3 linked regions of the Homo sapiens genome follow. The protein of the gene in region 3 purifies or fractionates together with the protein of the main gene of each other region. This does not show direct contact. Each region holds a gene or a part of one and is shown on either strand. Other genes may lie near its edges.

What was found.
Region 1: the proteins of MICALL1 (region 3) and RAB15 purify together in Homo sapiens (affinity purification with mass spectrometry; one large-scale study listed by BioGRID and IntAct). This does not show direct contact.
Region 2: the proteins of MICALL1 (region 3) and ZBTB21 purify together in Homo sapiens (affinity purification with mass spectrometry, with the first as the bait; one large-scale study listed by BioGRID). This does not show direct contact.

What each region holds. Positions count from the first base shown.
Region 1 is NC_000014.9:64,948,326-64,951,975, forward strand, and holds part of RAB15 (ras-related protein Rab-15), read right to left. Parts: intron 3,339-3,650; coding exon 3,278-3,338; intron 2,827-3,277; coding exon 2,749-2,826; coding exon of another isoform or gene 2,618-2,748; intron 2,090-2,617; coding exon 2,000-2,089; intron 409-1,999; coding exon 343-408; intron 188-342; coding exon 29-187; 3' UTR 1-28. UniProt on the Homo sapiens protein: The small GTPases Rab are key regulators of intracellular membrane trafficking, from the formation of transport vesicles to their fusion with membranes.
Region 2 is NC_000021.9:42,000,358-42,004,007, forward strand, and holds part of ZBTB21 (zinc finger and BTB domain-containing protein 21), read right to left. Parts: intron 2,605-3,650; 5' UTR 2,540-2,604; exon of another isoform or gene 1,993-2,539; intron 1-1,992. UniProt on the Homo sapiens protein: Acts as a transcription repressor.
Region 3 is NC_000022.11:37,912,753-37,916,402, forward strand, and holds part of MICALL1 (MICAL-like protein 1), read left to right. Parts: intron 1-3,650. UniProt on the Homo sapiens protein: Lipid-binding protein with higher affinity for phosphatidic acid, a lipid enriched in recycling endosome membranes. On endosome membranes, acts as a downstream effector of Rab proteins recruiting cytosolic proteins to regulate membrane tubulation.

The sequences.
Region 1 (3,650 bases), on a different chromosome or scaffold from region 3:
GTGTCGTGTGGGGTGCCCCACACAGGACTCAGCACCAGCAGGTTTTCGAAGAGTTCGCTGGGCCCTCGGGTTTGCCCTCCTCCTCCTCCAGCTCTGCCAGTGCCAACTCATTGCTGGCACGCATCCGGAGGCCTTCCAGCTCCTTCCTATGGGCCTGCAGCACCAGCTCTGTCAGACGCGTGAATGACTGGAAACCAAAGGGCACAGGTTAGTCCAGTGTCTCCTCCTCTCCCCTGGCAACCCTGCAGCGGCCTGAGGGATAAGGTCCATCTTATGGCTCCTCCTCCCACCTCTGCTGGACTCAGCCCGAGAGAGCGGGCGCCTGGTCACCAGGGCTCTCACCTCTTTAATGTTGAGGTTGGTGCAGGCACTTGTTTCATAGAAGTCCATGCCATACTCCTTCGCCAGCTGCAAGAGAAGGACATTTCTGAAAGAGAGTCAGTAAGGCAGGGGAGGGGCCCATACAACCAGGCACAGGCTTCTGCCACTGCACTCACAACCATGCTGTGTTGTGACGATTTCTCAGAGTAGATAATTTCTCAGATGGGACTGGGAGCTCCAAGAGAGGGTAGCAGAGAATGGGGGAAGATCCTCCACAAATATGCCTCTCCATTCTTCCAGCTGCCACCCCACGCCTCCCAACACACAATCATATATCAGGAGATAAAGACACCATCCATTGTGGCAGTATGGCATCCTCGTAAAAAACATGGGCTCTGGAGTCCCACAGTCCCAGACCTGAATAGCAGCACTGCCACTGATGGCTAGCTGTGTGACCTTGGACAAGTTGTACATTCTCTGTAAGCCCCAGCTTTATCTTCTGTTAAAGGAGACTGAGTGTGTCTCCCATCCATGGTTGTGGGATGATTCAGTGGGGTCGTGCACTTAAAAGCGCTTGCCTTAGCACAGTGCCACACATAGAGTGCTCAATAAATACTATCCTAGTAGGCTTTGCCTCTACTTTCAAATTGGTCAATGACCATGTCTTATATTTTATACCAAACAATCAATTTCATTTTAAGTACTAATGGAACGCTATTGACTGAAAAGGGAGAGGAAAACTCTTGAGGTCCACGGACTGAGTGGATAACTTATCTCAGAAATACCAATCTTGGCTGGGCACAGTGGCTCACGCCTGTAATCCCAGCACTTTGGGAGACTGAGGCAGGTGGATCACCTGAGGTTAGGAGTTCGAGACCGGCCTGGCCAATATGGCAAAACCCCATCTCTACTAAAAATACAAAAAAATTAGCCAGGCGTGGTGGCATGCACCTGTAATCTCAGCTACTTGGGAGGCTGAGGCAGAAGAATTGCTTGAACTCAGGAGGCAGAGGTTGCAGTGAGCCGAGATGGCGCCACTGCACTCTAGCCTGGGTGACAGAGCGAGACTCCATCTCAAAAAAAAAAAAAAAAAGAAAGAAAGAAAAAAAAAATAACCAATATTTCTTTCTGCTCTCTGGGAGGATGGTCTCCCTGCATGCTTGGACATTCCCTCAGCGTCATCCTCCTACCCTTTCTGCCCCCATGGCTTCTCCAGCTGTGGCTCTTTGTCTCCTCATTTGCCTCCCTGGCTCTTTCCTGGGTAAGAAGGACAGGAGTGGGGGAGTGTTGGGTGGGATGGGAGATCATTTCTCGACCGTAACATGGCAGCTAGGCCTGGATGCTGTCAGAGAAGAGGTTGACAACTTGAAGTCCTTCATTACTAACACGGGGATGATCTCTTAAGCAGAGGGCAATCCTGCATTTGGGGACCTGGACTTGGGAGAGTTGCTGCCTATGACGTCTTTGTTTCTGGATGGACCCCGAATCTCTGGGCTTCTGTCCTGAAACCCAGACAACAAGCCTTCCGAGGATGGCCACTCCCCCAGGGCCTTGGGGTGCTGGGGACGTGTGGGAGGACCTGCCACTGGGGAACACACCCCTAGGTCCCCACGCTCAGGACTGGCCCTGGAGGCCCAGCAGAGGACCTGGGGTGGACTTGCCTTTTCCCTCCACTTACCTGCTGCCCTTGCTCTCTTCCCACCTGCCGTTTCTGCTCCTCATCAGCCTTATTCCCAATAAGGATCTTCTGGACGCCTTCTGGTGCGTACTAGGGACAAAGGATGGGCAGAACAGCCAGTGAGTGCTGCCTGCCCCCCCAATTTTCCCTACAGAGTCTGCACTGCCTCCAGCCCACCACCAATTCCAGAGCCCTAGGGACAGGGTGGGCCGACTGGATGCAGGTGCCAGGCTCCCCCAAGTGCCATGGCTGACCTCAAGGGTATCACGGGGAGAGCTTAGGGTAGAAGACACTCTGGCTAAGACTGGTGCTTCCTTGGGTTAGACCACTGGTATCAGAGCTGGAAAGGACATTGGATGTAAGTCCAGCCCTCATTCTACAGGAACTGGGGACCCAGAGGATTCAAATGGCTTCCCAAGGCTCCACAGCTATTGTGCAGAGCCAGGACTAGATCCCAATCTTGCAACTCCACCTGGTCCCAAGATTTCAGGAAAGAAGCTGCTCACAGGGAAGACTTGGAACTAATTCATTTCCGGGAAAGACACAGCCGTGGAGGCCTGGCAGGGTATAGAGAGTGAGGGCATGGCAGCTTCGGTTTCTTCCCCATGTCTTACTCACCCAGAGGTCTTCATCCAGGGCTGTGGAAGGCAAAGCTTCCTGGAAGCATTTGCCTTCCCATCTGGCCCTCGCCTTGCCTTCCCCGGTGAGGCACCCTCTCCACACCCCGGCAGTGAGGTGGCATCTCCTACCTCATCCACGTCACTGACCCACTTCATGATGTGCTGGTAAGAGCGCTCGCTGCTAATGTCATAGACCAAAAATATCCCCTGAGAGAGAGAGAAATAGAGAGATGTGATATGCACAGAGAGAGTGCAGTCATGGGGCCAGAAGGGGCCGTGGAAACTTAAAGGTTGGGTCCCACTCTCCCATTCTCCCTGCTCAGCATCCAGAAATATCTCTTCTCTCAGACCCCACCACTGCCGCCTCCCAGGCCCATCACAGAACTCTCTACAGCAGGAAGACACCACATGCTTTGACCTGGATCTTTGACCCAGGATGGAGGGTGGAAGTCAGGGGTGAGGGCAGGGGCCTGCCTGCAGTGAGTGGGCCATGAACAATGGACGGACAAATGATCAGTGAACAGCTGAAAGACGCCCTGCGCTCCTCCAAGCAGGCGAACTGTATTTAGGGGATCCGTGGCACAGACATCTCAAATACCCAGAGCTGGGAGTGTGGGTGGCAGCTTCCCACTTTGAAACCCCCAATGTGGTGGCTTACCTGGGCCCGCCGATAGTACTGCTTTGTGATGGTCTGGTATCTCTCCTGCCCTGCAGTGTCCCTGCAGGAGAAAGCCAGTCCCTCAGAGGAGCAGGGACCATGGGAACAGACGGGGAGGGGAAGAGCAGAGCTGTCCCCTTGTAGGAAAAACTGGGGAGCTAAAGGGTGAAAAACCAGGGATGCTTGGATCCCCACAGGGATCTGCAGTCAGAGGCCTGGTCATCTGTGCTGGTGCTGACCAGGCCTGCAGGGCCTTGGCCCCTCCTGCCAACTGCCCTCCTGGCAGAAACCAGAAGCCACAGCCAGAACAGGCCTTGGACAGCTCTCTGGAATCTGGCCACTGTGGCCAGATTTGGTTGGATGGGAGTTGGCA
Region 2 (3,650 bases), on a different chromosome or scaffold from region 3:
ATAAACGTCTACCTCTGAATCCTTGTCTTGGGGTCTACTTTTGGGGGAATCCAAACTAAGACACAAACAGAACTCGAAGCACAGGTAACGGCTAACCACTTCACACTAAAACCTCCCTTCCAAGGGCTTGTCCTGGCCCTTTAGTGTGAAGACTAAACCAAGGGGAGTTTTCTACATCCCTGGACCTGAAGCAAATGGTATTCCACAGACCGTATGCATCCCGTTGCCAAAAAAGCAACATTTGTGTCCCTTTTGTTTAGAAAGGTTTCCTTCTTTATGCATTATTCAAAGTATCATGATCCCTATTTCTGCTCTAAGTCACTGCTTCAAATTTCTTGGATCACAGACCTCTATCTTCTTTGGATGAAAACATCTATGGACTAGGGGACAATAATAAAGTCATTCAAAGTTAAGTTGTAAGAGAAATACTCACTGTCCCTGAAAATTATTGGGGATTTAAAACTTAACTTTCCTATAACCTCCATTTAGAGCCATCACACCTGCCTGAAAAGTGCCTCAAGATGTCCAAATTCCTGATACACAAGTGCAGAATAACTTTATAGAGTATTTATTTTCCATTCCATTCAGTAGAACAGTAACTAGGTACTTAATAACAGCTAAAATTTGGGTGTTTATTCTGTCACATACACAAAAATAAAGAAGTTATTTTTATGTATTAACTCAATATTTACATCAACCATAGGAGGTAGGTACTATTATTATCCCCATTTTACAGATGAGAAAACTGAGGCACAGACGGTCAAGTAACATGCTCAACGTCATAGAGATAAGTAGCAGAGCAGGATTCACATCAGCTGGCTTGGATCCAGAGGCTAAGCTCTTAACCCCTACACGACACTGCCTCTAGTTTCCTCTTCCAATTCTCGTATCATCTTCTGAACTAGACAGTGTCATCAATCCTTTTTACAAACAAATGAGAAAACTGAGGCATTGAGAGGTCAAGTCATTTGCCTAAGGTCACCCAGACAATTATAGACTTATGGCTAGCATCTGTCTAGTGTGTGCTAGAACCCTTCTAGACATGGAAGATATCAATTTAACAAGTATGGCCCTGCCTCATGGAGCTTAAGGTCTTGTGCAGGAAGAGAACAGGTCAATTCATCAGCCTAGTCCAGTATGCTGAGCAGCAGACAGGATGTTTGCAGAGGTAGAGACGCAGTATAGATGACAGGCATCAGAGCCAGGTGAGATGGAGGCCAGGAAGGGCGTTCTACGAAGAAAGTTTTATAGGGAATGCTGGGAAGAGATAGGAAGGATGAAGGACATTTCGAGGGACGAGTATTTATTTTCCATTCCTTTCAGTAGAACAGTAACTAGGTACTCAATAACAGCTATAATTTGGGTGCTTATTCTGCCACACACACAAAAGAAAACACTTTTAATGTATTAACTCAATATTGACATCAACCCTAGGAGTTAGGTACTATTATTATCTCCATTCTACAGATGAGAAAACCGAGGCACAGAGGGTTAAGTAACATGCTCAATGTCAGACAGATAATAAGTAGCAGGGCAAGATTCACATCAGCTGGCTGGGCTGCAGTACATGCAACACTACAGAGACAAGACAGAGCAGGAGGAATCCAAGGGAACCACAGGTGGCTTTGCCTGGTGAAAGGTAAAGGTACACATAGGGGAGGAAATGCCCATGAGGCTGGAGGAAGATGGAGGCATGAGCGCCCTGGGGGCTAAAATATGTCATCTGAGGATCTTGCACAGGAAAGCAACATTGTCCATTCTCCCCAGTACCCCAGGATCTAGAGACTCTAGATGTCTAGATAGGAGACAGGGGTAGCTAGGAGATGCAGATCCCTCACCTTCACATTAAGGCCCTTGTTTTTTTTACATTTTAATTCAATTATTAAGTTTTGAAAACAATGTACCCTTTCCTAGTCTGGCTGCAGACAGACAATTAACATATTGAATTTTTGTGTTTTAATGACAGTCAGTATATTTGAGTTTAACAATTACCTAAAAATATAAAATGCTCCATCCATCAAGAATGTAAGTAAAAAGGGGGAAAATCACAACTGCTGACGATCACGAGATAATCCAGCAAGACTGTTTGTGGCTGGTGGCTGTGTACACCGAATCCTCAAAAACTTTTGATTTCTCTGCTCTTCTGCTGTCAGATAAGGCGAGCTTTGTTGCCGGGTGTACTTTCTCCTCAGTGTATTTTTCAGATCTAGACCGATAAGTTTGCTGGCACATCACTCCAAATTTCCATGCAGGTTTTCATTATGAGTAATCAGGGCCTCCGACTTACAGAAGCAGTGCATCTTACACATAAACACGCACTGCTGCCACCACCGTCTACGCCCCTCCTTTCCACGGCTCATCTCCACCTGACTCATCACGGCAGAACTTCTGCCACTTCAGTCATGGTGGAAAAACCTTGGAGCTCTTAAAAGACCAGTGGGTGAAATTTGGAGAAAAGGTCTATTTACGAGCAACAGAAAAAACTAAGAGGAAAACCCCCCAGGAAAACCAGTTTCTAAAATAGGGCCGGCTTGCTTACCACTTTGATCCTCGCACACAAATAGCTTCCCAAAGCCTTCCTGGATTGTTTCTACTTCATGTCTTCTGAAATTTCAAAATGAGAGAATCTTTATGGTTAACAATTCACAGAAGACCTTACAGTTCCATGGAAAAGCCTTTCGAATCAGTCTATTTGTCTCAAATCCTGGCTCCGCCACCTATTAGGCATGGAACCTTCTAAAGATGACTCAACCTTTCTGACTAGTTTCCTTACCTGTTAAACATGGCTAACACTACCCACCACATAGGATTTTTATGAAGGACAGAAGAGGCAACATGTTTGAAAGCCCCAGTACGTTCAGCACTTCCCATGTGGCACATGCACATCTTCCTTCCTTCTCCACTTCCCCTCACAGATGCTTGCGTGGGCCTGCTACCCACCACACATCACAAGAGGTGCTGGTGATGGGGAGATGAGTAACTGGCCTGCTTCTTGTTCTCCTGTAGCTCACATTTCCATGTTAGGACAGACAATAATTAACAAAGGATGTGAAGAATGCTACGGGAATACTGATTCCAGGAAGCAATTAATTTGGCCAGGGTGTAGGAGGGTGGAAGAGTGAATAGTGGGAACTATTCACTATTAACTATGAGTGAATAGTCCTAAGGAAGGCTTGGGACTCATCACTCCTTTGACAATTATAATACAAGCTGAATATCTCTAGTCCAAAAACCCAAAACTACTTTCTGAGCAACGACATGATGCACAAAGGAAAGGCTCATTAGAGCATTTTGGACTTTTGGATTAGGGACGCTGAACCACTGGGTATAATGAGAATATTTCAAAATCCCAAACAATCTGAAATCTGAAACACTTCTGGTCCCAAGCATTTCAGATAAGGGATAGTCAACCTCTAATACTAAAGGTTCCATTCTTTACATTTCTACTATAGACGCTTTTCAGAAATGCTCATCTGGCCTTGCTGGGGCTTAAAACCTTCCAAGGGCTTGCCCTGGCCTCAACTTCCAATTCCCTGGAATGGCTACAAAACCCTTCAGAACTGGATTCCAGAAGATTATTTCATACCATCACTTCAAATTCCTCAGGTAATAAATGCTAAGGGGGTGGGGGACTCATATCTCACATCTTT
Region 3 (3,650 bases):
GCCTCCTGGGTTTAACCTCCTGCCTCAGACTCCCAAGTAGCTGGGATTACAGGCACCCGGCACCACGCCCGGCTAATTTTTTGTGTCTTTAGTAGAGACAGGGTTTCACTATGTTGGCCAGGCTGGTCTCAAACTCTTGACCTCGTGATCTGCCCGCCTTGGCCTCCCCAAGTGCTGGGATTACAGGCGTGAGCCACTGTGCCCAGTCCCACTTTTTTTTTTTTTTTGAGACGGAGTTTCACTCTTGTTGCACAGGCTAGAGTGCAATGGCACGATCTTGTCTCACTGCAACCTCCGCTTCCTGAGTTTAAGCAATTCTCCTGTCTCAGCCTCCTGAGTAGCTGGGATTACAGGCACCCACCACTACACCTGGCTAATTTTTGGTATTTTTAGTAGAGATGAGGTTTCACCATGTTGGCCAGGCTGGTCTTGAACTCCTGACCTCAGGTGATCTGCCCGCCTCAGCCTCCAAAAGTGCTGGGACTACAGACGTGAGCCACTGGTGCCCGGCCTGACATATATCTTGAGTAAAAGAGCCTGTGCTGGGCTCTGGGGATGCAGCTGTGAATGTAATCACTGCTGAAGTCCCGTGGGGGAGATAGACACCAAACACACCCACCAGAAAATGAACACAATCATATCAGAGGAGACACAGCAGGTTGCGTTCATCCGCTGCATGGAGTCCACCTCCCCGGCACCCACCCTCACTTCCTGTTTGCAGACACTTCCTTGGGTTTTTCCTCCAGCAGGGAAGTGGCTCTGTCTGGTGAGGCTGCTGTGCTGTCTTCCACAGAAGTGACTGAGAGCTGAGAGGCTGGGGAACTGGGGAACCAGAGTTGCAGGGGCTACAAAGTGACTCGGTTCTGAGTGAGGTCACTGGGCATTCCCATGCAAGGACCTCCCTTGCAGGTAGCTGGGCCTCCCCTTCTGCAGAGATGAGATAGGCCTAGAGAGGGGAAGCAAGGAGCTCAAGATCACACAGCAGACAAACTGAACAGCTGGGTTGAGAATCCAGGTGTCCTGAATCCAACGCTGGATTCCTGCTGTCCCTGGGTCTGAGTAGAGCCCATTTCAGCCCCTCCCTCCTGCCTCTGCTGTCGGTCTAGACAGTTCTGGCCCAACTCTTTTTTTTTTTTTTTTGATACAGAGTTTTGCTCTTGTTGCCTAGGCTGGAGTGCGATGGCGCGATCTCGGCTTACTGCAACCTCTGCCCTCGGGGTTCAAGTGATTCTCCTGCTTCAGCCTCCTGAGTAGCTGGGATTACAGGCATGCACCAACATGTCCGGCTAATTTTTGTATTTTTAGTAGAGATGGGGTTTCGCCACTTTGGCCAGGCTGGTCTCAAACTCCTGACCTCAGGCGATCCACCTGCCTCGGCCTCCCAAAGTGGTAGGATTACAGGCATGAGCCACTGCGCCCGGCCCTGGCCCAACTCTTTAAAGTGTTTTATGAAGTCAGAGGTTTCTTTTCTTTTCTTTCTTTTTTTTTTTTGAAATGGAGTTTCACTCTTCTTGCCCAGGCTGGAGTGCAATGGCGCGGTCTCAGCTCACTGCAACCTCTACCTCCCGGGTTCAAGCGATTCTCCTGTTTTAGCCTCCCAAGTAGCTGGGATTACAGGCACCCGCCACCACACCCGGCTAATTTTTGTAGTTTTAGTAGAGACGGGGTTTCACCATGTTGGCCAGGCTGGTCTCGAATTCCTGACCTCAGGTGATCCACCCACCTCAGCCTCCCAAAGTGCTGGGATTACAGGCATGAGCCACTGCACCCAGCCATCTTTTCTTTCATTATATATATATATGTATATATATACATGCATATACATATATATGTACATATATTATGTGTATATATGCGTGCGCGCACACACACACACACGCACATATATGTGTATTTTTTTTGAGACAGGGTTTTACTCTGTTGTGTTGCCTAGGCTGGAGTGCAGTGGCATGATCACAGCTCAATGCGTCCTCAACCTTCCTGGGCTGCGGTGATCCTCCTATCTCAGCCTACTGAGAAGCTGGGACTACTGGTGCATGCAACCACACCCAGCTAACTTTTATATTTTTTGTAGAGGTGGAGTATCACCATGTTACCCAGGTTGGTCTTGAACTCCTAAGCTCAAGGGATCTACCCTTCTCGGCCTCCCAAAGTGCTGGGATTACAGGCATGAGCCACTATGCCCAGCCATAAATAAATAACTTTAGGAAAAAAAGAAAAAATAGCCGGGTGAAGTGGCTCATGCCTGTAATCCCAGCACTTTGGGAGGCCGAGGCAGGTGGATTGCTGTTGAGACCAGACTGGGCAACATAGCAAGAACCTGTCTCTACCAAAATAAAAATAAAAAAATTAACCAGGCATAGTGGTGGCACACCTGTAGTCCTAGCTACATGGGAGGTTGAGATGGGAGGTTTGCTTGAGGCCAGGAGTTTGAGGCTGCGGTGAGCTATGATCACGCCAGTGCACTGCAGCCTGGGCAACAGAGCGAGACCCCATCCCTAAACAGAAAAAATAAACAAGAAAATTTAGAACATGGCAAAAGCAGAAAAATTAAAATAATGTCTTATACCCCTTCCCCCTGATGTAACACTAGGGATTAAAATAATTGAACAAATAACATTATGTATATTTTAATAGAAAACAAAATGAAAGTATTTCCAGACCCCAGAGGCTCTGGTGAGAGGCAGTCTAAGGTTGGGGTTAAGAGCATGGACTCAAAATTTTCACTCTGCCATTTCCTCTTTGGGTGACCATGGGTCAGTTATTTAACCACTCTGCCTCAGTTTCCCTTTTGCAGTGAGGATAGGAATAACACCCATCTCACAGGGTTGACTTGAGGAGTAAATGAGGAAATGTATAAACCAGTGTTTGGCACCTATTTAGATTAGTATTCTTTTTTTTTTTTTTTTTTGAGACAGAGTCTCGCTGTGTCATCCAGGCTGGAGCTCAGTGGCACAACCTTGGCAGACTGCAGCCTCTGCCTCCCATGTTCAAGCGATTCTCATGCCTCAGTCTCCCAAGTAGCTGGGATTACAGGTGCGCACCACCACGCCTGGCTTAATTTTTGTATTTTTAGTAGAGATAGGGTTTCACTATGATGGCCGGTCTGGTCTGGGATTTCTGACCTCAAGTGATCCACCCACCTTGGCCTCCCAAAGTGCTGGGATTACAGGTGTGAGCCACTGCGCCCAGCCAAGATTAGTATTCTTACTACTTCTTATTTCACTGATTAGCGTTTAGCTGGATTCCTTAGAATCGCAATTCAGCCTTAGCCTGCGGCCTTCCTTGTGGCCAAACCTGAATCTCTCTCTACTGAGCTCATCTCTGGGACTCTGCGGGGTGGGTGGGGTGTGGGCAGCTGTTGGTGGTACGCAGCTCATTCGTTGGCCCTCTCTGGGCAGCCTGGTGGGCAGGGGCAGCCCTGGTGGGCACAGCTTACCGTGCTGAGTGTGGGCATGGGCACTCCCTCGCCCTGCAGGGATTCTCATTGATAAAGGTACAGTTTGTGGCAGACAGTCCTTTGTTATGCTGCCTGTATTTTCAGCCTCGCAATGTATTTTCATACCTTCTCTAATAAATCTGCCTTTTGTAATAAAAAAGAAAAGGTACAGTTTGTGCCTTTCATACAACTTGGCCCCTAAATGCAAACC